Regions from separate parts of the Homo sapiens genome. Here region 1 is linked to region 2. Evidence: fine-mapped expression QTL. A gene starts in region 2. The other region holds a variant in brackets. All regions are shown on one strand. Distances are from middle to middle. Region 1 overlaps SMCO4 (single-pass membrane protein with coiled-coil domains 4). Region 2 holds the start of SMCO4 (single-pass membrane protein with coiled-coil domains 4).

What was found.
Region 1: its variant is fine-mapped to the expression of SMCO4 in whole blood (TOPMed, PIP 0.95).

The regions. Positions count from the first base shown.
Region 1 is chr11:93,491,075-93,507,581 of GRCh38, forward strand. It overlaps SMCO4 (single-pass membrane protein with coiled-coil domains 4), which reads right to left. Exons shown (of 3, transcript NM_020179.3): 2 at 8,202-8,274. Among named protein-coding and RNA genes, the nearest start is that of SMCO4, 44 kb to the right of the region's middle. The variant G/A (reference allele first, on the strand shown) is at 8,224.
Region 2 is chr11:93,535,766-93,552,272 of GRCh38, forward strand. SMCO4 (single-pass membrane protein with coiled-coil domains 4) reads right to left here and starts at 7,626. Exons shown (of 3, transcript NM_020179.3): 1 at 7,511-7,626. It also overlaps the pseudogene SRP14P2. RefSeq lists enhancers at 236-305, 1,899-2,445 and silencers at 7,117-7,356, 7,487-7,536, 7,697-7,826.

The DNA.
Region 1 (16,507 bases), 45 kb before region 2:
AACCTGTAGGTTCCCTCGACTTCATTTGCTATTCAAATAGGTACTTTAAAACAGCAGGTACTAAAAGTAAGCATGGCTAATTCATCACTTCCTTAACGGCAGCTCAACTCCAAGGCAAGGCTGGGGAAGAATTCCTGAGAAAGCATGCAAGCCATCCAATGGTGTGCACTGGGTTTTGTTAAGGCAGTGCTTCTCCTAACTTGCCCATCTGAAATATGCAGAAGTAAGTGAATGCCTATCCCTGGAGGCCATGTTAGGGCATGGCCAGGGTAAGAATAAAATTTCCTTTGGCTCCTCTGTTATCTTAAAACATCAAGTGATCACATGAAACATCTGCCTTGTTGTTTACTTACAATGTGCACACACTGTGATAAAGCCTTCCGTGGCTCTCACTGATCCCTGACATCCCCGTGCTGTTGGCTCTACTGCATCACAGGCTCCCACCTTAGAAGTGAGAAATGAGTTTTGAGATTATGTAACTTGCTCAGGACCACTAGGCAAGTAAGTGGTGAGACACAGTCAAACCTAGGCAGTCTGGTTCCACAGCCTGCTCTTAACTACTAAGTGATATTGAATTCTCCTTTAACAAATATCAGTATTGGTTGTAAAATTTTAAAATGTTATTTCTCCCAAATCTTTGGGTTAAATGTGACCCTTGAGGAAGATGACCACACTGACCCTGATCCTTGGCCCCCATGCTGGCATGCTGGTGCACTGGAGCTAGAGAAACACAACTTCGCCAGAACTTGCCAGCCTGTCCCCATGTTTTTATGGCCAGGTGTGGGCTAACAGCCCCTTCTCCCCTAGACACGTAACACAGCCCTCATGTTCTTTTAGGCATGAACTTCATCAACAACCAAGATGCACAAGCACCAGTTGTTTATAACATCTTTAAAATGGAAAATTCACCTCTCAGCTAAATTACAGTAAGTTAATTACAGAGCCTGGCTGATGGCAGACAAACGGAAAGAATGAGGGACTAACTGAATTTATCAAACAGAAACAATAGCACACATCAAAGATTGTGCATCCGGGCCTTCCCCCAATAAAGAAGCTAGGGACTAGCCCCAGAGACAGGCGAGTAAGCTCCAGCAACCGTTCATTTATCCAGCTAACAGTTGCTGAGCACCAGTGTTGGCAACTAACCATGCACAGATTCATTTACTCACTCACCAATTCATTCTTTCAAACACTTCCTGAGCACCTACCACGTGCCACAAGCTGATTAACTGTTGTGAATATACAAACTGATTGACTGGTCCATCTGATCATTCATTGATTCACCAAATACAAGGCAGACTCGATGTGCTGGGTAATGTCCTGGTGACAGGACAGAATAATGAAAACAAAGTTCCTGGTCTCATGGAATTCACAGTCCAATTGAGGGAGATAAAAAATAAACAAATAAAAGTGTAATATGTCAAGGAACAAAGTGCTATGAAGAAAGACAAAAGAGTGTAAGGTGACCAGGTGGGAGACGTGATTTAACCCAGAGAGCATTACAAGGGACTGCCTCTGTGACTGGAGAGCAGAGGCCTGCAGGAAAGGCTGGAGCAAGCCCCAAGGAGACCTCAAAGAAGAGGGTGCCAGGGAAGGGCATGGAGGGCAAAGGCCACAAGGCAGGAGCAGCCTGAAGGTTTTAAGGGGTAGCAAGGGGCCAGGGCGACCAGAGCAGAACGAGTTGATGAACGATGAGCAAGGGGACTAGCCAAGGAGCTGAGACGGCCGGTCCAAAAGGGATTCTGCAAACACACTGTGCACTCTCAATGCTTACCATGTGTGCTTCACTGCAGACCTTTGATTCCTGACAAAATTCATATATTTTGCAAAAGAAAGGCAGTAAGCTAAGCTGCTATCAAATATTTACATAGCGGTGTGTCAATGTTCTCCAAGGTCTCCTAAGAGTCTATTTTAGGGTAGGAGAAAGGGAATGACCCCATCAGAAAATGAACTTGAGCTGCTGAAGTTGCATTTGTCATTAACAAAGTGATAAATATTTGATCTTTAATTTAAATGTCCTCCTTTTTGCTGAACCTTAAGCTGATTTACCAGTCAATGAGAATGGTTTCGGCAATGGCACAGAACAAGAAGGCTTTTGAGCACTGAAGACAAGGTTTATTGATCTTGCCACTGGTCCAACTGCAGACTGCACAGAAGCCTCCAGGTCAGCAAGAGTCAGACCAGCTCCAGTCTTAGGTCCACTCAGGCCACCGTGGGTCCACTGTTAACTAAGGCAAGCCTGGGCACCAGAACAGAGGAGAGCTCTCCCAGTCACCTTCTACTCCACCTTCCCCACGCTGCCCCCACCTGCTCCTGGTTAATAGCTTACCAAGGGCTGCTCATTCTCCTCTGTGTTGACTCTAGAATCTGTATCACACGCCACCCCCAAATAAAATAGAGGCTGCAGACACTGCACGCATACCCATGCCTGTATGTTCTCCCTGCCATTACCGAGTCCTCAGCATCTCCACCCAGATGCCTCCCTTCCTCCAGCCTCCTGATTCCTCAATTTCCAGGGAATGATTTCACAGAAACCCATGTCTGATCTTAGTCCTCTAACTAGAATGTGTTCATGTGTTCCCCACTGTCAACAAAACAGGGTACAGATAGGACCTGGCTTTCAACATCTCTGTGCTGAGCCCAACCCTGACCTCTGACATCGCATCATGCACGGCTGTTCTGTCTGCACATAGTGGGAGAACAAGCCAAACTCTTGCCCACTTCCAAGCCTCCTCATCTTGGCCTGCTTTACTTACTTGCTAGATGATACAAGACTGTCCCTCTCGCCAATGCTGCCCAAGCCAGAAGTCTGGGGATCTCCTAGATACCACCCCTCTCTGTCATTCTCTACATCAGATTGTTCTCCCTTATCCTAAACATCTCTCAGACATACCCCTCTCTCCTTCCCCACAGCCCTCATCTTTATTGATGAGGAAATTGTGATAGCCTCCTCCACTGTTTCTCTGCCTTCACCTTACTGCTTTGTCAAGCCTTAAGTAATGCAAACACTCCTGAGTCCTTTCGAAACCACTGTCCATGGAGGCAAGGCAAGGGATGCCACCCTTGCTCATCTCACATATTTTCCCCTTAGCAGGAAAAAATAATATGGTAGTAACACTGAAGAATCACCAGAGAAGCAAATGTGGGAGACAGAGACATCTTTTGCAAAGGGATATAGACGATGCATCTAAATTTCATACCTGTTTTAAAGTCTAGTTATCATAAACTTTGAAGCCAAAACACATTCCTAGCATAAATATGCATCACTTCAGAGTGCAGGGTTAACCACCAACCAAAAAATGTTAACCAAATAACAAGAAAGCCAAGTTAACAGTATAATTAGACCTCTAGATTCCCAGCAACTTTAAGTTGCTGTCACAAATTCAAGACCTCACTGACGTTGCACTGTCAGAGTGCCATTTCCAAACCCGCAGGAATCCAACCGCCTGTGTCCATGCTCAGCAGGCACCTGGAATGCACCACTGCTGAGCATGGCAACCCAGGGGAGTACAATCATCCAGAAACTCCAGCAGGGCACTAACTTAACACCAATCACATGTCAGTCACTTAGCAACATCCAGCCTACCGTCATACCTAAAATGTGCAAGTCTCTGGAATTTTAAGTCTCACACCCATTAGAACTAATAAAAGGACTTGCATATCTGAATCAGATCACTGACTTTCAGGAGAAGTCTTAGTACAGACCATGCCTACAGAATCCCTATTGTAAAAGACAAACCCGGTCCAGTAACTCCCTAGTATTTAATTCTACAGTGGCATTCCACTGCCTTTAGAATAAAATCCAAATCCCTTGCCTAACCTGGTCCCCAAGGAAGGACCTGCATGATCTGGCTCCTGCCTACCTTTTGCACTCAACTCCCACCCCACCGTGCCCTCCACCACAGCAGCGACCCTCCTCAGTGTTCTCTGGCATGCCACACCCTTGCTGACCTCCCAGGCCTTTATCCATGCAGCTGTCTGAAATGCCCTTTGCACCCCTATTCTCCCAAGCATTCCTTCTGCTTGGCAAAAAAGTAACAAGCAGTTGGTACTTGGCATCTCTTTCAAGACCCATCTCAAGGGTCACATGACTTTCCATCCCCCAGGGTGAGTGAGGGGCCATCTCTGTGTTCCCAGGACTCTGGGTAATAAACTCTATCACAACGCTCATCACACTATTAAAATCACCTTTGCTGGTATTCCCATTACAAACTTTGCTGTAACTCATCAGGCCACAGTGTACCAAACATCCAGCTGGAGTTTCAATATTACCATTAATTACCTTGGGGAAGGCCTGAGAATGGAGAGTATCATGCCTAAGATGAAATTCAGGTACGTGCTTTTCAGATGTGTGCACGGCAGCACACGCAGGACCTCCGACACACACAGGAGTAAAGCTCAAGACTAAGGAAAACAAATCGGCTTCAAGATAGGAAAAACATATTTAAAAAGGAAAGCTGTATGCTAATATTTAGCTTTCTTTTTCCCTTGTATAATAGAATGCCAGTCTTTTCTTGTACCAACCTAGAACCAAGTTTCATTCAAGATTTCATGAGCTAAAATGCTGTTGCACATTTTTATGTCAAAATATGTGGGTGGGGGATGGGGAGGTTGCTTGGGGAGTAGCAAGGAGTATTGCAATTTCAGCTGATTACTTATTGGCTATTAACTTATTAAGGTTACAAATGAAATAGTGGTCCACCTCTGTGTTCTAGGAGTTGTTATTCTGGTGTTTGGAGGAACAAATCACTCCTTGTTCCATTTCCCAGAACACAATATTCATTCTAAGTACACCTTTGAGAGCCTGAGTTATTTTATTGCGTTTGGAAAATTGAAGTCACTGCAATCTTCCTAGGAAGTCAAGAGTGAAGGGGAGAATGTCTCACAAGCTACAACAACATGGTGCCAACAATGCTGTGCCTCTGTAGCCAGGCCTGGGGCCCAGACAGTGCAGTCCACTCCATGGGCTGCACTGGGCTTATGTGTTTCATCAAGTGCAGGATGAGGTCACCAACAGGTTTCAAGCAAGGGAATTACATGATTTGACAAGAATTTTTAAAGATTGCTCTGGGTCCAAATTGATGAGAGGAATAGAAGAAAAGGGGAAGCAGGCAGGGCAGTCAGTTAAGAGGCTTTGGCAGTCACCTGGCAAAGGACGATGTTGGCTTGGACTTGGGGGGCGGATACAGGAAGGCCATGGATGAATTCAAGATGTACTTTAGGAGAGGCATCATTAGGATTTGGTGATTTGGGGGAAGAAAAAGATGAGTATTAACAAATGAAGTACCAGTTTCTGGCCTGACAAAGTGAGTTAACAACTACGTACCTTAATAAGATGGGGGAAGGGAGGAGGCCTAGAAAGGGACTATGGTAGAAGTAGACCAAGAGTTAAAATCTGGACACAGTAAGCTTGAGGTGCCCATGAGATACCAAGTTTGCTAACTGCCATAAAGGGTGTAAGAATGCTATAGAACACAGAGGAGTCCTGGGGCCAGCCTCAGAGGTGACCCCTGTCTATCCTCTCATGGTGTCGGAGGTCCTGCCACTGTGCCAATTCAAGGTGGGCACAACCACTGAGGAGCACCTGGAACCCCACTCAGCCAGGACACATGAGGGTAGCCTCTATGAGGATCCTCACTAATGCAGATCCAGCTTTGGGGTTAAGAAAACAATAACCTTAACAGTAAAATGGTGCTTGCATCATGCCACAACTAAAAGTAAAATGTGAAGCCTGTTTCCTTTGATTACAAGCATCACGATAGGCTTGCAGATTTCTCGATACTGATGCTTCAGATTCCCAGTAAAAGGGTGTTGGTATCTGGTCCTGGGCCCCAACGCTTACACTATGGGGAGTAACCTGTTTGGGGGATTCCAGGTTAGAATTTCCCACAGGAAAATGTTAATCTAAGAGAGTATCAGAGGAAGGTCTCTCAACATAAAAAGACCAGAGATGGTGGCCTGTTTTAGGAAAACAACAATTCACTGAAATCACATCCTGCTTTTAATAGCCCCCCTTCTAGAATAGAAGCTGGTTTTTTATTATGATGGTTCTATTTTCCCATTTCCCCATCAAAGGACAAATCAAAATGTCACCTGACAATCCACTTTCATTAAAAGTTGAGCAATTTTTTAAAAATCACAGTTAACTAAACAATTCCACATGGCAATAAAGCACTGTGCTCTGCTGCCTTGACTGATAGAAACCATTTGCAATGATTTAAAAGAGAAGGAAGCGAAAGAACATCATCAGATACAGCTGAATTAAGCTGATCAAACCTGTTAGTGTCTTCCAGTTTACTCAGAGTAAGACAATGCAGCATTCATGTAAGCTAATTAAATTTCTTGTATTTAAATTAGCCTTAACAAAAACAAAACTTTCAAGACTGACTGGAAGGTCTCAGGAGGAACATATCTGCTTTTTCAAGAAAGCTGCCTGGCTGAGGGTGGAGGGAGCACCAGGGTCAGACTCTCAACAGAAGGTCAAGACTCCCCTCCCTCAAAGGAACACTGAGGGTAGAGACGGTTCTGTGACACTGTTAGTTTGCCATGGCTTCCAAAGGGGGGTACCAAGATCAGATGGTTGGGGGGAACTGAACCCCATTCACATCAGTTCATGATGTTATGCAAGACATTGAACTTCTGAGCTTATTTCCCAACTTTGAAAATGAGAAGTTACCACTTGCCTCTGCCTGCTTCCCAGGACTGGTGGGAGAAGAAAATCTGCCGACGTGTGTCAAAGCACCTTGCAAAAGAGAAAGCACTCTACAAATGTGAGAGACAGTTGCTGGTTACTGTTAGGCAGAAAGGGCTGAGTCAAGTCTTCCAAGATGATGGTGACCAATTAAACTGATTTTCTTTTTTTTGAGAACTGTCAGTTGATTATTTATTTTGTATAAAAGTTACATTGAAAGAAGAGGTTGAAAAGTCAAGTATACTAGATTTGCACACACTTGCGAAGTCTCACAGGATTCAACCACTTGGATAATTTCTTAATTGATAACAGGATATACATATTAAAAGCCTCACACTGAAGCCCAATACACGTCAAACCCAGACAACAATGTGCAGATGAATACGCAAAACAATCTCTGGAAATTTGTATCTCTGGGAACACCCACAATCTATGCTTTGTCCCTCTGGCTATGATGCATAAACTCATAAAATTAATAAGAAACTTTTATGGGATCTTTAGCAGTTACAGTAAACAGTTTGAGAAAAGGAACCTGCTGACTTATTCATTTAAAGGACAAAGGTTGGGGGCAGGGAGGTGGGTTAAGACACAAAGTCACTGAGTGAAGCAGTCGAGAGCATGGCACAGATGGAGAAGGTGATCCACCTGTGCAGCAGATAGGAGGGGCTACAACCACAGCGAGACCTAAAGCCCCCCACATGCAACCCCCACTCACACCCGCCACAAGCGGAGAAGGGGGCTGGGGAGCTGTGCTCCAGTGACCACTGGCATCCAGCTCTGCCTGTCACCTCCCTCCCCACTTCTGGATTCCTGCTCTTAACATGGGTCCAAAATCAAATGTGAAAAAAAAGTATCAGATACAAAAGCTTTGCTATTAGCTTCATTTCACCAATAGCCAAAGGACACCTGGCGAAGATCAGGAATTTCGGATGAATGCTCAAAGATCATAATGTATTTAAGAATGATTCCTAGTACAGGCCCAGTAAGGGAGGCGTGGTGGGGGTACAATGTGGGTCCACACAGGAGCAGGCCTCTTGTGGAGAGGCTCCTTCATGAGTCATTCGAGAAACATTTATGGAATACCGACTGTGTCCCAGGCACAACTCAGATGCACCCTTAAGCAGCTTACTGGGGAAAACACAAAAACAGGCAACGAGAATAAAGCGTGGAAGTAAGTACTATGATGGGGGGTGTGTCACAGACCTCTACCCGACTGGCCAAGAGAGGAAGGGTGAGACCATCAGGGGAAGGGCAAACGAGAACACAAACATCACAGGAAGGAGAAAGTGTCGTGGGGGTTCAACAGCAGGAGAAATCACCCGCAGCCTGGAGGAGATCCTCCACAAAGGACAAAGGTGGCATTTGATAAAGATCTTGAGGGATGAAGAGGAACTTGGCCAGGCAGAGAGAAGGGGTAAAATATTACACACAAAACTAGGCATATGAGAGAAATGACTGGGACAGTAACCTCTCCCCAGACAATGAGTTTCCCTTATAAGAGAATGTTTACCTTTTCTTCAACTTCAAGAATC[G/A]TTGATTAATTTCAGCAAACTGATTTCCAGTACAGGTGACTTGAGTTATTCCTGTTGAGAAATTAGAAGAAAGGGTATAATAGCTGCTGGGGAGGTATCCCTCCACAGACTCCTTTTTTGGAACCCCCTCAGCCCATGCTGAGAGGGCAGTCACACGGTTCCCCTCTCCCAACTGGCTTAGGGATAGACACTTGTCACCGCCCTGCTCCAGAAGGGCAGACAGACAGATACACTGGCACATGTGTGCATGTGCGTGATGGACAGGACCAAGCAGCCCCTGCATGGAGTTAGAGGGGCCTTCCCACTCCTGTGCCCAGCAGGCAGTCAAGCTTTGCTTCCTGTATTCCTGGGATTTCTACAACAAACTCGCTGCTAACTTAAGCCGCCATGAGACCATGGCTGTTCCCTGCAATCAAAAATCACTGATTTAAAAATGAAGGATACAGGTTTGGGATTAGAAAAGAAACAAACGCGGAAGGTGAAGGAACAGAGGCTTTTAAACCAAAGCCTTGGGAAAAATAAAAGATGAGAAAGTGACCCAGGCATCCGAACTACCGTCCCATAACATCAGAGAGGAAAGGAAGAGAGATGTGTGACAGCCACAGAGGACAGCCAACAAATTAACTCAAAACCTCAGTGGCATTAAATATTAAGTTGGAAGCCCAGATACTGGGGGAAAGGAGCTTTTAGTATGGGTATTACCCATAAAGCAAAATAAATAAGAGTTCCCTTGAAAGTAAAAAGGTGGGAGACTCCAAAAAGTGTCCATAACAAGCAAGACATAATTGAGTAATGGTACAATGCCTATCATTACTAAAATACGTAAAGATAAATCTTGGTTTACCGTGCTTTTTGTTTTGTTTCAAACAAACATTTCATTTCAAGGTATGGTGGGTCAGCAATCAGTGCTGAGTTCAGCTGGGCTTTTTCTTCTGGTCTTGCCTGGCTTATGTATGTGGCTATAGGCATCTGGTTGCTCCACTGGGCCAGATGGTCTCAGATGACTTTGTTCATGTTAGTGGTTGGTACTGGCTGCTGTGCTGCCTTCATATTCTCTTGCAGTAAATGTAAACAGTTGTTGTTTTTTTATTCCCAAAGAGCTTCACAGATGTATGCCCGACCTCTATCCTCGCCATATTTTTCCATTAGTTCCTGAGTTGGGCAATCACAAACTTACCTACTGTGGGGATTTAAGAACCTAATGTCTTATAGCCTCTTCTACTAGGGAGCACTGATTTTGGTGAAGTCCAGAGATTAAGGTATGTAAAAGGGAGGGATGGGACGCAGAACTGGAAAGGGGAAGGGAGTTGGTTATTCAGGAGTCATGAATGCCAAGTAAAGGAGTTTGGACTTTATCAAAGCAGCATGTAGTCTAGTCCCCATTCTCTAAGAGATAATTGCCATTCTGAAAATATGGAAAGTTAAAATTGGGCTCCAGAGGAAAAATATGACCTGAGTTAGAGGGTCTATAAAGACTGAAGCAGTCAGCTGGAAATTAAGTCATCAGCAAGCCGTGACCTCTACCCTTGACAGGGTTCTTTGCCTGCTGCTGTTGGCTCAGTAGCTGCAGCAAAGGCTCTACCAGTTTGCCCTAGTTTCTAGGCCTTCTGAGCAGCTTGTCGCCCCAGGGGCTCACTGGAGCATCAGCTTTCACTGAACAGGGTACAGAACAGCGACAGGGACACCAGCTGGCCTCCGAAGGGCAACTCTGCTATCTGCTCTCCCCAGATCTGGCCCTGTCTAAATATTCCAAGTAGCAGAGGCACCTGCTGCTCGTCCCAGACCTATAGCACTTTCTCTCACTAGGCCTCAGTTTCTTCATTCATAAAATGATAGAGACTAGATCAGTGGTACTCAACAGGAGTTCTGCAAACCAGTGCCAACTCTGCTGCTGGGTCATGACCAGATAAGTACAGAAATTGGGAGTAAGTGCTCAGAAGCTTTTCTAGCAATATGAGAAAGAGAGAGCCAAGCACATAAACAGCAGAAGTGTCTTGGACAGGGCACAGACTAGTATATGAGTTTCCTGAGGCTGCCATAATTATCACTGGAAGGCTTAAAACAGGAAATGTATTAATTCTGAAGGTCAGAAGTCTGAAATAAACAGGCAATGCCATGCTCCCTCTAGAAGCCGTAGGGGAGAACTCGTTTGTCGCCGCTTCCAGCTTCTGGTGGCTTGGCATTCCCTGGCTTGTGGCCACATCATTCCGACCTCTGCCTCCATCTTGACATATGCCCTCTCCTCTTGGCACACTGCCTTCTCTTCTGTGTCAAATCTCTCTCTGCTTCTCTCTTATAAGAATATCTGTGATGGCACTTAGGGCCTACCAAATAATCCAGGATGATCTCATCTCAAGATCCTTACTTAGTCACATCTGCAAACCCCCTTTTTCCAATTAAGGTAACATTTATAGGTTCCAGGGATGTTCTAATCTAAGCACATCTTTGGGGCCACCATTTAGCCAACTACGGCGGGTTTGGGTATTGTTGAATTTGTGCATGACCTGCTGCACATGGTGTATACTGTACCTTTCCACTGGGGAAACACAGCCACCCTGTTTCTAAATAGCCTGAACAGCAATGGGCCAGATGACGTCAAATGTAGCAGGTTCCCTTGAGCACACACACTTGGAACCCCTGCTATGCCTCTCTATAGCCCAGAGGCCTGGGCTGCACAGGACCAGACTGCAATGGGCACCACCAAGAAAGGAGAGCAGGCTAGCAGGTGACCCAGGGGGCAAAGTACAGATGCAAACTGTTCCCTTAGCCTTTCCCACGGCTGATCTCCCAGATAATCTGGCAGGCAATGCAGGAGCTACCCCTTCCCCACCCCATACTCCTGTCCCTCACATGGCCTTAGTTGTAAAGTGATTACATTAATCTGTTTTCTGTTCAAATGTACCTCCCTCATCCCATCAAATGCTCAGTTTTAAATGTTCACATTTGAGAACAGAAGCAAAACTATGCTATTGAAGTCCCTGTAAACCTAGCATTACCCTGCTACTAACAACCTTTCCCCCAACAGCCCTCCCCCTACCCTCAAAAACACCCAGCAAGTTTCCAGGCTTCATAACAGAATGGAGAAGGCACTGGGGTGACTTCACAAAGCAAGGATTTCATTTTGTGTTAGAGGTTTTCTTGCATGGTCAGAATACTCCTCACTGAATGAAACACAAAATGTAGGGTCCCTATGCTGTACATTTCAGGCTTAAAGGGCAGACTATATCAAAGGACCTCAGAGTATTGAAAATGGTAACATGCGATAACAGGTATGGCCATGGTAAAACAGGTACTCTCATCATTCAACTTTCTGGAAAGCAATTAAACAAATTCTCATTAAGTGGCTTAAAACTATACACACCCTTTGACTTTGTAATTCCATTTCCAGAACTCTACACTAAGGAACAAAACTTAATGCTACACGGCAACATCATACCTGAGATAAAAAATGAAAAAGAAACTTATCCAACAAAAGGACAGAATTAGACAAATTATGGTAGATTCATTTAAAAACTCTTATGCAGCCATTAAAAATGACATCTAACAAAGAATTGTTAATAAAAATCACAAATACAATACTAACAGCTACTCCTTACACAGGCCAGCCACTAACCTGAGCTTTTTAGGTGTTCTGTATATGTTAATCTTTGTAATTTGTATACCAACTCAAGGAGGTAGGTACTATTATTCCCATTTTACAGATCAGAAAGAAGAGGTACTGAGAGTTAAGGCACTTGCTCAAGATTAGATCCCACAGAGTCTGGCTCCAGAGTCCATTGTCTAGAACCCTGTAGAAGGCTGAATAATGGCCCCAGAGAGGTCAGGTCCTGTATCAGTCCATTTTCACGCTGCTGATAAAGACATACCTGAGACTGGGTAATTTATAAAGAAAAAGAGGTTTAATGGACTCACAGTTCCATTGTGAGGCCCCCCCAACCATGGTGAAAGGCAAAAGGCATGTCTTACACGGTGGCAGACAAGAGATAATGAGAACCAAGTGACAGGGGCTTCCCTTATAAAACTATCAGATCTTGTGAGACTTATTCATTACCACAAGAACAGTATGGGGAAAACTGCCCCCATGATTCAATTATCTCCCAACAGTTCCCTCCCACAACACGTGGGAATTATGGGAGCTACAATTCAAGGTGAGATTTGGGTGGGGACACAACCAAACCATATCAGGTCCCAATCCTGAAACCTGGAAATGTTATCTTAGGTGGAAAATGGTCTTTGTAGACATGATTAAGTCAAGAATTGTGAGATAAAGCTGTATTCTTGATTATCTGGATTGGACCTAAATTCACATGCCCTTATAAGAAAGGTAGATTACACACACACAAACACACAGACACACACTGTGAAAACTGAGGCAGATATACGAATGACAAGACCACGTGCCAAGGAATGCTGGCAGCACCAAAGGCTGGGAGAGCAAGGAGTGGAACAGATTCTCCCCTAGAGTCTGTGCACATGGAGCACGGTCCTGCCCATACCTTGATTTCAGACTTCTGGCTTCCAAAACTATGAGAATATATTTGCTATTTTAAGCCACTCTGTTTGTGGAAATGTATTACAGCAGCAACAGGAAACTAATACAAGTCCATGTTGCTCTCAACACAAGAAAAAGTATTCATATGTTAAATGGAATAAGAAGAAATCAAAATTTATACACAATGATCTTAATTATGCATATAAAAATACATGCAAATAAAACAAAATGTTTATAGTGATTATCTCTGAAGAAGGATTATGGGTAATTTTCAGCATTATGCCTTCTGCTATTTACCCAAATTTCTACAATTAGTCTGAATTATTTTTACAAAGAAAAAGTTATTTTAAAAGTAGGAATCCATGATATTTCTGCAACTCCAACTTAATCAAAGAAGATTAGAAATCAAGAGGTCCAAAAACTCAATGGGAATTTCCCTAATTCAATCTCAGAGCAACACCAAAAAATTTAGCAACCTGGATACATGTCATTCCCTAAATGACTCCACTCAACCCTTGGTCTCTTGAAAGCCTGTTGGTTTTCAGACTCTGGCAGGAAGATGATGTGGCTGAAGAAGTTTCAGGCTTCTTTGAAGAGGATAACCTGAAAAGGTAAATATTTTCCTGCTTATCTACCCATACAAGAGAAGGAATGAGAGATTTTTGTGCATTCCCAGAGCTCATCCAGCCCAAAGCCTGTGGCCACATGCCAAAACCAAAAGCACCAGTTAATAAACATGTAAATGTTTGATTTCTCTGTAGGTGACTTTGCAGAATGAAACATCAAATCAAACACTGACCTAATCTTCTTACAAAAGTCCTGACTCCAAGGCTATTCTGTCGCAAAACCCTCCTGCTATCATCTGCCCAGGAAGCCACCAGACCACAGGCCAATTTTACTGTATCAACATCATGCCCTTTGATTAAATATATTCATACAAATAGTATATTAACATTTTCCCCAACGTGTGGGCAGTACTGGATCAAAACAGAAAGATGTGTTTTTCTGTTTTGCATGGTGGGGAAGGGAAGAGTCACTGGATCCATCCAAAATGGGGCCAGGTCAGAGCAAGGGGGTGCAGGAAATGCATGTGAAATGATTTTATTCAGTCCCCCTGTACAGCACAGTGAGTTAGGGCAGTGGGTGAAGAAACCACAGTGTAGGGTTTGTCTTTCAGTCCAGGTTTTTCTAAGTATGTTTATGCATACTTCATGCAGTCTATCAATATGTACAAGTACTTATTAAACATGAGGCACTAAGAGAAAGTTGTCTCACGCTGTAACAGATCATGTCTTCAACATGCTACACTCTCAGATGATGCAGCTGGGCAAATGGACATCTTTACTGATCTTCAGCAGTCTGGATCACAGAGCTGCTAGCAGTGGCAGAACGTTGAGAGGAAGACCTAAATGGGCCTGGCAGAGCTTTGAAAATGAGTAAAACAAAAAACAAATGATTTAGCACTGTCTACTTTCCTACACACCATTCACATAACAGTTCTAATTTCAGTAACTACTTCATTAATGTCTGTACCTCCCACTTAATCATCTACTCCATATAAAAAGTATAATTAACACTTTCCCCAACTCTGTTTTTTTTCACTTGCTATTGTATTACCCAACCTAGCAGTGTCTAACTTTAAGAAGTACTCATTACATATTTGAGGTATAAATTATTGCAAGAATGAATATAGGTCATCAGTTTCCTCATCTGTAAAAATGAAAAGGCCAGACTATGTGATTATTTCCCAAAGAAAATTCCAAGAAACCTAATTTTACGACTTATGCCAAAAAAAGAAGTTTCACAAGTTATTCAGCTTTGGAAATGCTACATTCTATAGCCTCCCATTCCCCTTAAAGATTCACAATATATACCTTATACAACAAAGGATCTTGAAAATCCTTCAATCAAAAATGTATTTGAGCATTCCCAAATCTAGCTGACCACAGATGCCCATTCATCAACACTTACTGATATCACAGAGAACCAATGTTCTAAGGAAACCATGGGAAATACTAACCTAAACTCTTCGTTTGTTAAAAAAGAAAAATGTATTAAGCCCTTGCAATGATGATGATGATGATGATGATGATGATGATGATGATGAAAATAGCTAACATTTAGCAAGTGATTAGCTGTGCCAGACATGGTACTTGGTGCTCCTGCCCACCAAGATAAATATGAAACCTGGCCCATAGTCTACAGCCCACTGGATGAAATCATTGCACACGATTATAACCAGAAATGCTGAATATACACACGTGTGCATTTATACACACATACACACCTATACATGTGTAGATATATAAATATGTGTGAATATGCACACACACACACGGGGAGGGAGAGGTGGTGGTGAAGATGAATGTTCCGGGTAGAGGGGGCATGGAGCCAAGATATGGAAAGCGAGAGAATCTAGAGCATGCAGATGAATGATGGGCAGTTTAGTCTTACCCACTGGTTTTTGAAGTGTGGCCCAAGACCCTTTCTGGGAGTCCCGCCAGGTCAAAACTATCTTCAACTGTGTTGACACTTACATTGCTGGTGCAAAAGCAATAGCAGGTAAAACAACTGGTGGCTTAGCATAAATCAAGGCAGTGGCATCTCACTGTATCAGTGGTCATTATATTCTCTACTGCCACACACACAGCTTTTTTTTTTTTTTTTGAGATGGAGTCTCGCTCTGTCGCCCAGGCTGGAGTACAGTGGCACGATCTCGGCTCACTGCAACCTCCACCTCCCAGGTTCACACCATTCTCCTGCCTCAGCCTCCAGAGTAGCTGGGACTACGGGTGCCCGCCACCACGTCTAGCTAATTTTTTGTTTTTTTTGTAGTAGAGACGGGGTTTCACCATGTTAGCCAGGATGGTCTCGCTCTCCTGACCTCGTGATCCAACCGCCTCGGCCTCCCAAAGTGCTGGGATTACAGGCATGAGCCACCACGCCTGTCCTTAGCTAAGCGTGTCCTTGATGAAGCAGTAAAATTATTAATTTCATTAAATATTGATTCTTGAGTACACATCTTTTTAATATCCCATGTAACAAAATGTTAAGCGCACTCATTCGGCACTTCCGCTGCAGGCCAGAGTGCGGTGGTTGTCTTTGGGAAGAAAAAGTACTTGTGTGACTGAGCTGCAAGCTTAGCCACTGTTTTTCACAGAACACCATCTTTCCTTGAAAGAATGACTGAGAAAAACTATGATTACTCAGATTTGGGTATTTATAGACACTTTGTCAAAAATAAATACAGTGAGCCTGTTATTTCAAGGAAAACTGACGGTATTTGTTGCTAAAGACAAATTTTGGGCTTTCAAGCAAAAATTAAAACTTCGGGGCCGGGTGCGGTGGCTCACGCATGTAATCCCAGCACTTTGGGAGGCCGAGGCAGGCAGATCACCTGAGGTCAGGAGTTCAAGGTCAGCCTGAACAACATGGTGAAACCCTATCTCTACTAAAAATACAAAAATAAGCGTGATGGTGGGTGTCAGTAATCCCAGTTACTCGGGAGGCTGAGGCATGAGAATCACTTGAACCCGGGAAGCGGAGGTTGCAATGACCTGAGATTGTGGCACTGCACTTCAGCCTGGGGGATAGAGACTCTATCTCAAAACAAATAAACAGAACTTTGGAAAACCTGTATCCAGTATTTTCAGCTTTAGAGCATCTCAATACTTAAAGACTTTTCAGATGAGAATGGCAATGACATTAACAAATGTGATATGTTGATATTTTTCTAAACGGTGGTATTAAATGTGATATTTTGATATTTTCCAAATGACTAATGATGCATGA
Region 2 (16,507 bases):
AGAACAAAACTAAGAAGACCAAAGCAGCAGCAGCAGCAGCAACAGCAGCACAGTAAAGGACATACATTTCCTGCTTTCACCAATTAACCACTGAATTGCTATTTTTTCCTTTTGGCCACATAGCTAGGTTTCTGGTTCCCCCACAGTAGGTGTTTTCACATAAGATTAGGGTCTTTTTGGAAAGAATAGTTGCAGTGTTTATAGGATAGTTGTGGTAAGAATCTAGTTTATTTTGCATTTGGCTAATTGGTCTGTGCTGCATGGTTATATACTCCTGGATTATAGATAAAAAGTCTCCGTAGACATCTCTGTGAAGAGCAAGCTATCATTAAACATGTCTGTTTATCAAGAAAAAAAAAAGAAGCCAAATGATGAGGTTTGCAACCTCACCAATAATAAATGAAATGCCTACTGAACAATGATCCATTTCTTTCACCCAGGGGAATGGCAGCCCATTACCACTGACAACAGGAACTAGCACATCTCTTGAGAGCATAGTATGGGTACTGCTGCAACATTTTAAATGAATTTAACATTTGACATGCCAATTCTACTCCTAGAGAAACATGTGCATACTAATATGTATGAATGAAGATATAATAGCAAAACTAATGAGTTAGTTTATATGTCTACCAGTAGGGGACCAATTCATAAATTATGACATAACTACACTGGAAAATATTTTGTAGGCAAATAAAAGACAAATTAAAAGAACAGAGAAGAGCTACATGCATGAAAAGCTCTCGAAAATATACTATGTGAAAAAAGCAGTATGATGCAATCAGATTCATGCTTCTAAAAGAAGGAAAACCATAGTGTATTTGTGTATACAGGCTTGACAGTTTCAGGACACGGATCCAACTGCTAACACCAGTTATCTCTGAGGACCTGGAGGAGCTGGCACCTGGGGAGGGGTGCTGGGTGAAGGGGAATGTGACAAGTCTGCTGTGTCCTTCTGCACTATTTAAATGCAAGGGCAGGCTGCAGGAGAATACATTTACATATTACCTATATGATTTCAGAAAAAAAGCACCTAAACTGATTAAAAAACCACCACCACCAAAACAAGCTACTTATGCTGATGTGAAATTGCTGCACCAATTTGAACAGGTTTCTATGCTGCACTTCCAGGTCTTCCCAAGACTGACAAAGTTCAAGCCAATTTCTGCAGTACTGATGACAGACTGAATTGGGACTAACAAGGAAGAAGGAAAATGTGGGATGCAAGGAAAACATCTGTAAAAGCTCTGTGGAAGCTGCAAACCAGTCCTACCCTGAACCTGCTCATCACCAAAACTCACTAGTTCTGGGGCCTTCCTCCCTCTCATCCCTATAGGATGAGAAATAAGCCAAAACCGGAATCAAGAGAGAATTCCCTTTCCCACGGCAGAGGGAGGCCTCCACTGTCACCAGCAGAGCTGCTCCCAGGCAAAGCCAAAGAAACGGCCTGGCCAAACTCCACCTTCCTGACAAAGGCACCATGTGCCAGGCTCCTGGGATTGCAGGGACAGCCAAGACTGGCAGCCCTGAAGCCCACGCATTTGAGTCCCTCCACTTCGGCAAACAGCCCAGGAATCTTTTCACACTCACTACTGAAATCCAAACTGAACCAGTATACAAATCAGATGGTCCTGCCAACAAAACAGGAACAAAATGGAAAAAAGGGTGATAAATCAATGATATCCTGGCTAAATATATACTTCTTCTTTCTGCTTGCAGGGGCACTGCTATAGATTTAAACCTTTGATAAATATCTTTTTTGCTTCCCAGTAATAATTAAAGCAAACACACCCAAACACGCACCTAAACACGAAGCAAAAAGAACGAGAAAAGGGCTTTGCTCAGGACATAATGTTCAAGAGGTAGGCATGACAGCTCATATCCACAGGCAGAAATGCTCTTCTCCCATTAAAACATGTACCTGTCTGGCACGGGTTCTTACCCCACAAAAGAAACAACTGGACACTCTAGGGGACTGCCGAGAAGTGCCCTCAGAACAAGAAGAGGTTCCCTCTTTGAGGGAAAAGTGTAAACATCAAGCAGAAAGTGGGTGAGCAGACTCTTGCACGGAGTGACTCACCGGCAGAGACAGCTTGTTGCTGGAGATGCTGGGAGCAGGCAGGTCCAACAGAGGTAACCTGGCTTCCTCCTCGCAGCGAGAACACAGCCCAAATAAAGCCAGAATCTGACCACCTGACCTCCGGCCTGACCAGAGCCAGCACAAACTCTCAGAAGGGCAGGGATGTTGCACAATTTGGAAAAACGGAAGCCCAAAAGCAAGTTTATGACCACGTCTGGCACTGACTAGGGGAAAGGGCACAAAACCAGTATATTCCTGACATGGCAACAGTGCGTCCTACCGATGACAGGACATGCAGACCCCAGCCAATCATCTCCTTGGGCTCTGATGCCCGCTTCCCTGAGCATGGCTTGGCGCCCCGCAGAGACTGCACCCGTCAGAGGAGGCTGGCCTCGACTCCTCTTGGGGCTGGCCATTATGTTCACTGCCACTCCTGCTTCCCAGTCAACCCCTGCAAGTTTGGTGACCACAAGTTAACCCCATCTAGGGCAGATCAACTCTTATGGAATAGCCAAAACTGAGGACCAAACCCTGGTGGGTCCCCTGTGCCACCAGGGAAGAGGGGTGTGCAGACAATACCCCAGGAAGGCGTCTTCCCTTCCACACTTCTAACCTTGACTAGCATTTCCCAAAATGCAGTCTGAGGAATCCAACTTCATTCTCTGCGATGCTCCTGGAAAGTTAGGAATGATAAGGCTGGGGTGGCACAGGGAAGGGAAGGCCCTTTCGGACTGTGCTCAGCCACCTTTCTCTAGCTGTTAGCAGAGACCAAAGGAGGCACTTTTGGTTTCTGCAGAGATTGCTTTTAGCCTGCACATAGTCAGCATCTCCAACACCCATCCCTGGGGCATCAGACCTGAAATGGGAAGGGATGATGCAATTCTAGTATCCAAAGGCACTAAGCTCTATGGATTCCAACAAGCCCCCTCTTCTCCGCAACCACTGCCACTGTCTTAATGTCTTCTGTTCAGGCCCTCATCTCTCAAGACATTACTTTAATGAACTAGTTTCTCTACACCTAATTTCTACTTGCTTCACTTCAAAACTCCAGACAGCCACCGAGCTACCTTTCTAGAATACAGGCCTGACCCTCTCTGCCTACAGGACTAAGTCCCAACCCTGGCACAGCATGCAAGGCCCCTGCCTGCCTTTCCAGCTGGAAGCATGGGCTTTGGAGTCCTACAGATCATTGCAGTGACACTTAGATAAACCACTTGCTGGCTATGTGAACACACATGTGTTTCTGCACCCATTTCCACATCTGTGTGTTGGGAATAGCATGATCAGCCTCCCAGAGCTACTGTGAGGACCGAATCCAAGTTCTAAAGAGCCTAGATCTCACCAACCTAGCTCCAGGGTCCTCTCTCTTTCCCATCTTGCTATACCAGCTCTTCATAATCAATGAGAATTGACTCAAGGGTAAAAAAAAAAAAATACATGCAAGATCTAAAAATGAAGGGTCATAAATTTAAAAATTAGGCCACCACAATGTGAAAGAAACCAAAATTAACTCATTATCAAAATAATGTAGGAGGACGGAAGGAACAGGAAGAGAAGGAAAACAGTACATTTAGGAAGAAATGCTTTTAAAATATAAGTCTCTATGATGTTTTGAGCCTCATTTGCTCCAAAGATTTAGGAAGATGACATTTCAAAAGCTCACAAAGACGACACTTCTACTTTTTAAAAACTATTTCCTAATTATTATCTTCAGAGAACTAAGAAGTACTTTCACAGACTGAATGTTAATAAAATTCTCAGAGGAAATTCTGGCATCAGTCACAACAAACACCCTCTTGGAATTTAATTTCCTTTCAGCATACAATTTACTATGGAAACTCATTTGTGATGCCACCACAACCAGTCAAAATCTGCCTGGAGCACAAAAACTTCAGAGTCCCAAAAGAGGGCCTTAAAGGACTAGATGGAAATTGGTCCCATATTAAGCCAAATCCTGCATCTAACAGAAATTTCCCCCACACCAAACTAGCTTTGACCGTCAGCCAGCCCACTCCTCTCTCTAGCTGCCCTATACTATAGGCTCTTCCAGGGCCCCCTTCCAGCTAGAACCCCCTGAATTCTGTATCTTTTCCCTGTCCAACAAAATTAATTTAAAAAAAAAAAAAAGGAGGAAGGCCACAAAATGGGCAAAGGGAAACCAGCTACATCCATTTTCAACTTTCTATCAAAGACCTGTCCTTTCTGGCTTACGATTTTTTCAATTCCCTTGGACAAGACAATCACAGGCCCTGGAATATTCATTGCGCGTGCTGGGGCTTAGGGTGGGAAGGCAAAAAGGCTAGAAGAATCATTGATAAGTACAAAAAGTACTTTAAGCCTTTTCCCCCTGAGGACAACTGCTGAAAGACTTACTCAATCCCATTGACCCAAGTACCTGTGTGCAAGGGAAAGGAGTGGATGCCAATCTTTACTCAGCACCCACTGCAATTAGTGGGTACATTTCTTGAATATAAGACAGACAGTATTATCCTGATTTTACACATGTGGAAACCAGGCTCAGAGAGGTCAGGCAGCAGGTTCAGTATTTACACCCAGGCCTGCCAGACTCCCAAGACGCTTGAACTTAACCACTTCACCACACTGCTTCCAGAGTCTACAAGTGTTTATGTTAAAATGTGCTGGGTTAGGGAGCCCGTTAAGAGTTTACTTGTTGCTCTTCACATACAGTATCTCATTTAACTAGCACAACCCTGTAGGATAGCTGAGAATTCCTTTTCCACTGTTAACAAAATGGTACATGGATTGAAAGATCATCAGTAACTTATGCACGACAGCTGTACCAGAGTCGTGCCATCTCTTGGCTTTGTTTTCTCTCCTGTAAAATGATGCTCACTCCTACCTCACAATGCCTGCTCAATGGCAGGGGCTCAAATGGTGACGATTATGATTTTTATCAATACTTCTCAATTAAAGTAAAATTTATACACACACAAACACTAGATATTTTAAAGACTCAACCTAATTAATCAAGCCTTTACTTGTTGGAGAAGATATCATTTTTAACACTACCTCATCTGGTCTGAAAAGGAAAGTAGTTTAAAAAATATTTGGAAAAAATTGTTTAATAATAAAATACCACTACCTCAAACTCAGAGAGAACCACTAACTGCAGCTTCCAAAAAGCTGACAAAAAAGGATTACTGAAAATGATGTGGTCAAACCCAATATGGATTTTGAAAGCTACTAATGGACAAGAACAGGAACATTCAGTTATGACAAAATACACACACAAAAAAAATTCCTCTTCTTCCAGCACCATGGCTTGATCATTAATGTGTGGTGTGACCCTGGCCAAGTCACTTCAATGCTGTGATGGCCCTCAGCACCCAAAATGTCAAGGCCAGCTTATGACCAGGAAGCTCTAGTGAGAAGTTGCCCAGGGGGTCTAGGGGACAGGAGCGGGGTGGAGGGGACACAGATGATTGCCTGGAGCAATTTTTAATGTGCTGCCTCTAACTCACTGCTTGCCTTTTACTACACTCATCTGAAAAGAAATGAGAAGTCTGGGCATGCCAGAGGCAAGAGGAACCAGCTCACCACTTCTCAAGCCAGAATGGAAAAGATGGCAGAAGCATAGTTGTACAAGGACCCCAGCATCAGTCAGACAGAAGGAAACCTATAATATTATGCAATGAGAGACCCTGAGGATGTTCTTCAGACAAACCCCAGCAGGACCAATCCAACTCCAAGCTTGAGCGTCCACTCCAAGCTTGAAGATTAAACAATAAGAAAAAATTCGGGTCCACAGGTGAAATACACACTTTCTAAGCACAATGAGCAACTTTATAGTAGATAGCTGGACAACCAAGTACACTAACTGCAAGCATAAGAACAGTATTCATGTTGTAAATCGAGTACCAACTACTATTAGTTTTTTGTTGTTTTGCTTTTTGCAATATTTCTTCTCATATTTTATTTTAAATCTAAGCTAATTTCTTTATAAGAACAGGCTAAGGCTTATTTTCTGTGGCTGATCCAGCCTTACAAGAAAAAAGATTTCACTGTGTCCCTCAGAAACCTACTCCTGTCTACATCACACTGTCGAGCTCTCTCTTTATACCCCATGTGACAGATAAGAAAACAGAAGTCCAGAGAGAGCAAGTGACTCATCCAAGGTCAAACTTCTTGCTAACACATCTAGGACGAGAATAAGGGCTCAAGAAGCCCACTATGGGTCTCTTGCCGTATCACTGCTGCAAATGACCAGGCATACTGGTGTCTTGAATACAAAGTTTATTTGTAAAGGGGAAAAAAAAAAAGCCAACATGAGTCATCTGCATTGTCAACGGGCTCCACACAGGTTGTTCTAATAAAGCATCCAGCACCTCCAGAACCACTTGTTTCTGAAAGCACCAACCTACGCAGACACTAGCAGGCCATGTCTTCCACCCTTGCCACCCTCGAGGCTGTGAGCAGATGCGCTGTTGGGCTCTGGGGATCTAGAGGTGTCACTTAAAGAGCAAGGGAGCCTGGAGCTTGGCAGTACTGACTGGATGAGTGGATGGGTGGGTGTATGAGGACATGGGAGTGTTTTCTGACAGCTCCCGGAGATAGTTATGATATCATGCAGCCTAATCCCACTCATCTTGGAACACCCCAAACATCTCATCCGCTCAGCTGTCCCTCCTCAACTTCCTCAGGGCAAAAGCACTGCAGTCTGAGGTGAATCTGGCCGCTGGGGAGGGGCGGTAGTCGGCCCCAGCAGCAGAGGAAGCAACGCTCAGCTCCCTCCTCCACCCACCCCGTACAGGAACTCCCCACTGGGTCTTCAGATGCCAGAGGCGTACCCAGCTCGGAGCCTGCCCCGGGTCTCAGGGTCGGTCCCGAAAGAACGGGGGAGGAGGAAGGCTCTATCCCGCCCCCGCCTCACCTCTACTCCCCGACCCCCAGGCGCCGACCCTTCTCACCCGCAAGGTCCGCCGCCGGACTCTTGTCCACTCCCAGAGACCCTGAGCGCACCCCTTTCTCGGCGTCCTCAAAGGACCCGCGTTTCCCACCTTCCCATACGGGGCCCTCCCGGCCGCCCCGGCCCAAGCCCTTTGCACTGCGTCCCCCGGCCCCTGAGTCCGCCCCGCACCCGCACTTCCCGCCCGGCCCCGCGGGCTCGCGGTCCGCCCCAACTTTTCCCAGCCCCCGCCCCGCAGCAACCGGGATGCAGCGTCTCGAGCCGCGACGGGCAGGCGAGCTCGAGTCCCTCGGGCCCCCAACCCCGCCCGCACGAGTTGCGCTCGGGACCCGCCGGGCGCCCAGGCCTGGGTCAGCAGCACTGCGCGGAGGCGGAGCCGGCGTGGCGGGAACCGTACTGTCCCGGCGCCGCACCCCCGCCCGGTGCCCGGTGCCCCGTGCCCCGCGCCCGCCCGCCGGCTCGCCCGCCCCGCCGCCGCCGCCGCCGCGCCGCTCCCAGCCCACCTGCCCGCGGGCGCCGCCGCCGCCGCCGCCACCACTGCCGGGAATACGTGGCAGTGGCCGCCGCCGCTTGCGCTCCCCGCCTCGCCTCTCCTCTCGGCGCCCGCGCGGGCGACTCTGGCGCGCCAGACCGCAGCGCCAGGCGCCCTCTGCCGCCGGGAAGCCGAATCCTCCCGTCCTAACCCTAACTCGCTGGCTGCCCCCGCCCGGGCCTCGGCTCCCGCCCCCTCTTCCCCGTTCCCGGCTCAGACTGTCGCTTCCGAGCGACCTGGGTTCTCGCCCGGCCTGCTGCTGCCGCTGCCTCCAGGAAGTTCGCCCTGACCACCTCTGCAGGCTCAGCGCGCTTCCTCCGGCTCCCGCGCAGCGGGTGCTTAAGTCACCCCCTTGTTGATATATTTCCTGCTTCTTTGAACGCCTCGCCCGTGAGATAGCAGAATCGGAAAGGGGATAGTTGGAGGCAAACGCCATGTCTGTTGTGTTCACCATTCTCTCCTCCAGGGCAAGGTTAGCGCCCTGTCTGGAATACTGAAGTGCGCAATAAATACTTGTGAAGAGAGCAAACGAGTAGATGAATGAGTTGAGACTTTTACCGCTGTCTACCCAAGTAGGCTTTGAAACCTCAAGCGGACAGAGATCCTGACCTGGATTTGTTTTTTGTAACTTACACGTGCATATGTGTGCGCAGCTCAGCATAAATAAATGAGATTCACAATTCCCCACCTCGGACCAGCGCCAAATCCGCAAGAGGCCCACGGCTAAATGTTATTCAGGGCTTTTGGTCAAACACGTTTAGGTTTGAGATCTACCTCTTAAAAGCTGGGCAATCGCGGGAAAGCTCATCTCCCTGGCCCACAGTGAACACGTCTATAAATTAAGAATAATAAAACCTACTTCACAGAGTTGTGAGAATTAATTGAGATGGTGCACTATAAAGTTCTTTACGCAGCCCCGATGTGTGCGGTGGTATGTAAATGGTAGTTATTGTTGTATTACTACTGATGCAGTAGGTGATTTTAAAAACTATCTTCGAAATGTAAAATATTGACTACCTTTTCACCTTAAAACCTTTATATGTGTGGTATTGTCACCTGCTCAGCAAGGCCAGCCCGGGGAGCAAGGCCACTCCTGTAACCTCTTCCCCTCCACCGGTAAAAATATAACAAGTCTTGGGGTTTTTTTGTTCTGTTTTGAAGAATTGTGGAACCCACTCTTCTGCAGGTTTTCCACCTGGATTTCTGTGGCCAATCTCTTAATTAACAAGTTTTTATTTTAGGGATGTCAAAGACAGGGAGCCCTTTGAAAGCACCTGCAGTCTACTGGCTCTTCCTGTTTTCTTCCTGACCCTCTCTCAAACAACTTAAGGCTTTTTTTTTCATTTTTACAGGAAGTGTCCTTCCTGCTGCGTACAAAAGGCAGCAATGCAGTAGAGTGGGATCAGAGGGGATTGGGCTGCATACACCTTGGGCTTTCTGCACCTCAGTCCCCTCAACGGTAAACTGTGGAGAATAAGACCTTGTCACATTGGGAGATCATTCATGATCCGGTCTGTGAAGGAAATAAGGAAATACCTGAAACACAAAGATATTTAATAAAAGGCAACTATTGATCAGTTTATTTAGCATGTATTTAAGGAGCATCTTTTTAGTGTTCTATGCGCTGAAAGAATGAGGGGAACACGCGTGTGTGAGGTAAGTTTCCTACCTTCAAAGGAGTTTGAGCTGTAGCTCCACACTAGGGCAGAGGGATTGGGAGCATATGGGATGCAGCTAAATATGAAATTAGCAAGCCTCAAGGTTTAAATTGGGGCAGTGGTACTGCCGTGTGAATTGCTTTAATTCATTATCATTGTAAATGCCATTTTCCTCTAAATATTATGTACACAACTTCCCAAGGCCACTGCTAAAAATTAATGAATAATTTTATGAGGCAAGCAGAGCCACTGATGTAGGACTCAGTCCCTTAATAAGGTGACTCCACATGCTCCCTTATAGTAGTAATAACATAGATATTGTGTCTGTGAAAGTGCCATCCTTGGCTGGGCGTGGTGGCTTACCCCTGTAATCCCTGCACTTTGGGAGGCCGAGGTGGGTGGATCACCTGAGGTCAGGAGTTCGGGATCAACCTGGCCAACACGATGAACCCCGTCTCTACTGAAAATACAAAAACTAGCTGGGCGTGGTGGCAGGCACCTATAATCCCAGCTACTTGGGAGGCCTGAGGCAGGAGAATCACCTGAACCCAGAAGGCGGAGGTTGTAGTGAGCTGAGATCATGCCACTGCACTCCAGCCTGGGCAACAAGAGTGAAACTCTGTCTCAAAAAAAAAAAAAAAAAAAAAGAGAGAGAGAGAGAAAAGAAAAAGAAAGTGTCATCCTTTATAGGTTAGAGTTGTGTATCTTGCAATGCAAGTCTCAGAGGAAAAGTTTACACATTTTACACTAATGGCTTCTAATGAATCACCCCTACTGAGTTGTCCTTCTGTAGCTCCCTCCCACGTTGACCCTGGAGTTGGCCTTGTGACTTCCTTTAGCTACTGGGACATGAACAAATATGACACAAGCAGGGGCTTTCGATGTGCACTTGTGCCTTGCTCCTTGCTTTCTTGAAATGCTATCCTGAGACTGCCATGAAGAAACCTGGTCCAACTCCTTGAAGAGGAAAGACCCTGAGAAGAGAAAGCCTTGCTGTCCCAGCTATGCAGCCCACCAGCTCTCAGCCACATGAGTGAGCTCCAGGGAAAGCCAGCCAAAAATAGTCCAGCCAACCCAGGAATTGTGAGAAATAAAATGGTGGTTGTTTCAAATCACTAAGTGTTAGGGTGGTTTGTTATACAGTAATAGATAACTGACACACAGATCACTCACAGGCACTCCTGCAGTTACAAGTTCTAGATGAAATTCACCCAAGAATCAGTACTCTTGCTAGCGTTTTCTGTTATGAAGCATTCAGTTGAAGTCACTAAATCTAAGCTTAGCAGAGCATCACACTTCATGTAAATACCCTCTTTGAAAGTTCTTCATTGAATTGGTTACTGAGCCTAGTACTGTTTAAAATCCTTTGGCAGTCAACATAACAATGGGCTGGCAAAATCAGCTTGTAAGCTACCAAAAGCTTTAAACGTTAGAACTCCCTGGAACATCAACAGCAGGTATCATAGAGGTTAGGTGTGTTTATCTCTCCCACTTGATTGTAAGCTCCTTAATGACAATTACATTTATTGGCATGGTTTTATCATAGATCACGAAACATCAGAGATGGAGTTAGAGATCATCTAACCCACCACCTCATTTTACAGATGAGAAAACTGGGGCTAAGAGAAATCATCAGAGCCTTACAAATATCCAAGGTCCTGGAGCTGGCTCAGAGCAGAACTGGGATGACCAATTCACAGTTCTTTACGCTGTTAGTTGAACTCTTCTGTTTTTCCTTTGTGACATTTTTGCTATTTAAAATATTCTTCCCATGCTCAAAATATGTCTGTAACTTTCCTATGTGCTGGTGATAAAATCTAAACGATTATACATGGCCCCATGAGGTCTGGTGCAGCTTGCCCCTACAGAGATATTGGTACTGTTCTGCCCCTCACTCAGCACACTTTGCCCAACTGGCTTTCTTTCTGTTCCCCAAACCAGCAAGCTCTTCTCTTCTTCACAGAAAGCCCCTTCCACATGCTGTTCCTTCCACTGACGTGCTCTTTCCCAAACTCTTCACTTTGCTAAATCCCGCTTTCCAGAACCCATTAGAGTTCTGTGGTACATTATTTGGGAAATAATGTAAACAAAAAAATTTGGTGCACATAGAGGTAGCTCTCAGTCTCTTCAGCCAAGTTTTGGAAAGCTCAAAGACCAAACAGCTCAGGAATCTTATGGAGATTTGATTCCTAACAGACACCTTGTTGAGGCTCAACCAGTGGAACAAGCCACTCTGGTTTTTCTGTTTTTGCATCACTCCACTCAAGATTCCAAACCCTAGAAGAACGTCAGCCTTGGTTAGCTTGGCCACATGCCTACCCTCAGCCAGAGAAGAACAGGACACCTTGAATGAAAGCCTCCAAACATAATCATCAGGGCATTGTTACCAAAGAAGGGAAAGTTGATCAAGGATAACAAAACCAGTGAATGTCCACTACATAATCTCTCGGGCCTTGCCTTAAATGTCGTCTTCTCAGAGAAGCTTTTCTTAACCACCCCATCTGTTGCACGCTTTCATGACACTCCTTGTTTTTTTCACTGTTCTCATCATATTTTTATAGTTACATATTCTCATGTGTTTGTGTCTCTCGAATTCTCCCTCCACGAGAAAAGGGACTGCGTTTGCTTGCCCACTACTATACCTTCAATACCTAGCATGGAGCCTGGTGCATACAGGAACTCAATAAATATGTATTAAATCAATCAATAAATGAGCAAACAAATGAATGAATAATATAAGCCTTGTGAGTCTTCTGACTTAATCCATGTGATATTAACTTTGTAGGAAGAAGGAGAAAAGACAAAGAGAATATAATGAGTGTAGGCTGTGGAAGATTCTCTCTGCTGGGTCCCTTTGTGATGCTGTGGGGAGGACAAAGACTCGTGTGCAGGATAAATGAAGAAACACAACCTTGTGCATCAGAGATAAGCCATGTGTTGTGCTATGCTGTACTGTCCTTGAGGGATAAATTATGCAAGTAATGAAGTAAGAGGGGGAGGCCTAGAATGGTGGTCTGCATGTCTCAGAATGTTTGCAGAAGTAGGAACCCTCAAAACTGCTGCCTGACTGCAGCTGCCAGGAGCTGAGGTCAGGAATGTATGTTCATAAACCTACTCCCTTGGCCCCTGTTCATGCCTGGCTGTGCATTCTCTGTAGCAGAAGTTCCAGAGTTATCTGCCGATGGCTGCAAATCCACAGACAGGTTTTTCACAACTCAGAGGTAAAATGAGAGTAATCAGAGCAATGTAAAGCTAAATGTATGCAATTCTTGTATCAATGATTATTATATTTGTAATCATTTGGATGTGGGTTTTTTGTTTTGGTCATTTTTTGGCAAAATAAAAAGTTGACAGCCTCAGTTTCCATTCCCACTCCCAAAATGTTTTTGTAATGGTTTTGGTCTATGAAATCTGAAAGCCTCAGAAATTCTCACTTTATAATCTCAGAGACCTGGACAATCCCTGCAAAGGCTTCAGACCCATCAGAAAATCAACTGTTGTTGTTTTGTTGTTTCTCATGTTTTAATCATGTAGCCTGTTTCCTTTTCTGCCTCATACCTACTTGGCAGTCATTTAACTCCAGTGGTTAAAACATGGGGTTAAGGGGACTTCACTGCCAGAATCACATCTGTGGCTGTGGGTCAGGAGGGAGCTGGGCCTTGGTTCTGTCCTGTCCACAAGGAAGACCTGGACTTGAGGTCTGGTTGTTACCAGTGGAGGGTCCAGGTTCTTGGCATTTCGAACATTTGAACAAAGAACTGGAGAAAACACACAAACAAAGCAAGGAAAGAGTGAAGCAACAAAAGCAGAAATTTATTGAAAATGAAACTCTACAGGGTGGGAACAGCCTCAAGCAGGTGGCTCAAGGGCCCTGGGTACAGAATTTTCTGGGGCTTAAATACCCTCTAGAGGTTTCCCACTGGTTACTTGGTGTATACCCTGCATAAATAAAGAGGCTGAAGTGAAGTTGCAAAGTTATTTATTTGGTGTACACTCTATGCGTATGAAGAGGTTATTTCCTGTCATAGCTGAAGTAGAGTTACAGAGTTATTTACTTGGTCGTAGAAAGTTGGGGTTTTTCCGTTTGATTTGCTTCTAGGAAGTCCTTAGTTTTCCTGCCCTGAGACTCTATTCCCCTGCCTTATGGTCAGTGGCCATGAGTGTGTGTGTACACTCACATGCATGTGTGTGTACTTATGGCAGGGAGAGTCCTTGGGTGTCCCCAACACTCTTCCACCGTAGGGGAGCTACTTAACCCTAAGAGGAGATATTGTTCTTAATCCCTGTTTTACAAAGAAGGAAAATAAGACTTAGAACGTTTAAGCAATTCACCCCAAGCCTGGTTAAATACAAAGTTCAAATACTTAATTAACCTTAACCTCTTTGGTCATAGTTCAGGTGCTTGATTGGTGTTACCTGAAGTTAAATCTGATATGAATTCCCAGAAGCCAACATTATGGAAAGACTTTTCTAGAACTAGGAAAGAGGTAAAAAAAATTTTTTTGAGTCAGGGTCTCACTCTGTTGCCCAGGCTGGAGTGCAGTGGCACAATCACATCTCACTGCAGCTTCAACCTCCTGGGCTCAAACGATCCTCCTGCCTCAGCCTCCCCAGTAGCTTGGACCACAGGCATGCACCACCATGCTTAACTAATTTATTTATTTTTTTTTTTTTTATGTTGAGACAAGGTCTCACTATGTTGCCCAGGCTGTTCTTGAACTCCTGGGCTCAAGTGATCCTTCCACCTCAGCCTCCCGAAGTGCTGTGATTACAGACACAAACCATCATGTTTGGCCAAGAGGTAAAACTTACCCTCCCTAAGTTAAGAGGGAAAACTACCAGCTTCTTGGATTTAAGAAGCCGTAGAGCTTGAAGTCCTGTACATTTATGTAAGTATCAAGTGTTATAATAAAAATGTCTTTTTCTCACTGGTAGTAATTCTTTTAAAGACTTCAAACAAAATTATACCTATTCTTGGAAATTAAGTAAGCATGCCCATTTTCATAAAGCTGTGAAATCCCATATAAGGAAAAGTTTTAAGATCTCTGCTTTCGTTTGAAAAAAGCACCAGAGCGCTACTGAAAAGTTCAACCCAAATCTTCATGCTTACTGCCCTGTTTTCTGAAATTTAAGTCTCTAGCTAAAGAATGGGAAGGAATTCCTACTCTACCCCTGCTGCCGGCAACCAAAGCATGCTCTCAAGCCAAGAACACCAGTGAACCCTTTAAATTTCTCCACAACTTTCTCCCTGCTGGCAAATGTCAAGTTTCTATTTCAAAAGAAATAAGAGCGTCATTAACATGCCTGTCTTCATGCTCTTCTAACTCCTTTCAGAATTTTGGGGGGTTTTGCTTGAGAAAGTAAGACCACACTAAAATCACAACTCCCCAGGGTGTATCATTAAAGGTGGAACTCGGCCAGGCATGGTGCCTCATGCCTGTAATCCCAACAATTTGGGAGACTGAGGTAGGAGGACCGCTTGAGCTCAGGAGTTCGAGATCAGCCTGGGCAACATGGTGAAACCGCATCTCTACAAAAAATTTTAAAAAATTAAAAAATAAAAATAGCCAGGCGTGGTGGCACACCCTGGTAGTCCCAGCTACTTGGGGGGCTGAGGCAGGAGGAGCACTTGAGCTCAGGAATTTGAGGCTACAGTGAGCTGTTATCGCACCATTGCACTCCAGCCTGGGTGACAGTGAGACCCTGAATTTTTTTTATTTTTATTTTTATTTTATTTTTTCAGGGAAAGTATGTGGCAGAGAAGAAAAAACAAAAATGGAACTGTTGGTGTGTTTAGAAGGGAGCAGGGGAGCTCCACTTTTATTCCATAGGCTGTAAATAGCCCACTATCATTTTTAAATCCCAAAGTAAAAAATAACACTTAATTACCTTAACTTTCAAACCTATAACCACAAGATCTTCATTAGTGACTCATATACCAGCTGTACCTTTTGGTCTGGCACATTTTTTAACATCAAAGGTGTTTCCTATCAACTATGTCTTTTTCCCCAAGGGAGCTTCATCTTTATCAGAAAGCAATGAGAACGTTTCTAGTCTATACTTAACTCTTCAATCACTTCACATGTATTTACGGAACACCTAGTACATGCAGGCAATTTATCGAGTTGTGTGAATATAAAAGCAAAAAAGACATATACTCCTTTCCTTCCCTAGAGAAACTCACAGATCAGTGGAGAGAAAAAATGTATATAATTACAAATTTTACAAATGATGTTAAGCGTGCTGAAGAGAAAGAACAAGGTTCTATGAGAAAGTTTTATAAAGAGAACAAGTTTTATATTGAAAGGTCAGAGAAGACCTTTCTGGAAGTGATCTGAAAGTTTGACCAAAGAGATGAACAGGTATTGGCCCAGTGAGGAACCTCCTGGGGACGTGGTCCTCCTCACCCAAGGCTTCTCTATGTCTCGGACAATGATCAGGACAAGAAGTGCAACTTCTCGGTGCATCATTGCTTTCAGAGAGGAGTCTTGGGGCCCTGTCTCCCCAGAGGTGCAGAGGCAAGACAGGGAGTCCCCAGCTTCTTCCACAGGGGCTTCCTTCTCTATCCAACCCACACTCTGCTCTCTGAATTCCTGACTCCCCTCAGCTGCAGCACTTAGGTGAGTATTTTACTCCAGGTGAGTATTTTGCTAGTTCCTGTGCATATGCAGTCTCTGCACCTAAACTGTCAGTGCCTGGAGAGCGGATGGCTCTATCTAACTCTCCTTTTTTAATGCTCATAGTGTCTACAAGAGAACTTGATTCATAGCCACCATTCAACAAACACCTGTTTAATGGGATTGAATTTTCAGCATTTAGTAGTGTACTAAACATCTGATGTGAAATAAGAGCCAAATTAGGCAAAGTAAGCATGATTTAGAAGTGCAGAGATGGAAAGAAAATGGTATGAAGAGCATTGGTGTAGAAGTACTTCCTGAAACTTGAAGGAATCCATCTGGTATCGCTTTGATTGACTTTGTTAAGGACACAATTCCTAGGTTCTGAGACTCCTCAACTCTAAGATGCAACAGTCATTGAACAACAGTTTACTTTTTGAGGGGTGAAAAATGGCTGCTTTCAATGTTTACATATATTGAGAGCCATAGAGCCATATTCTGACTTTGGAAACACTAAAATGTTTCCAAAAAGTATGTTTTATAATTTAAAAAAAAGTCAGTACTCATCACTACTTTTTTTTTTTTTTTTTTTTTTGAGACACAGTTTCACTCTGTCGCTCAGGCTGAAGTGCAGTGGCACAATCTCGGCTCACTGCAATCTCCTCCTCCAGGGTTCAAGCCTTCCAAGTAATT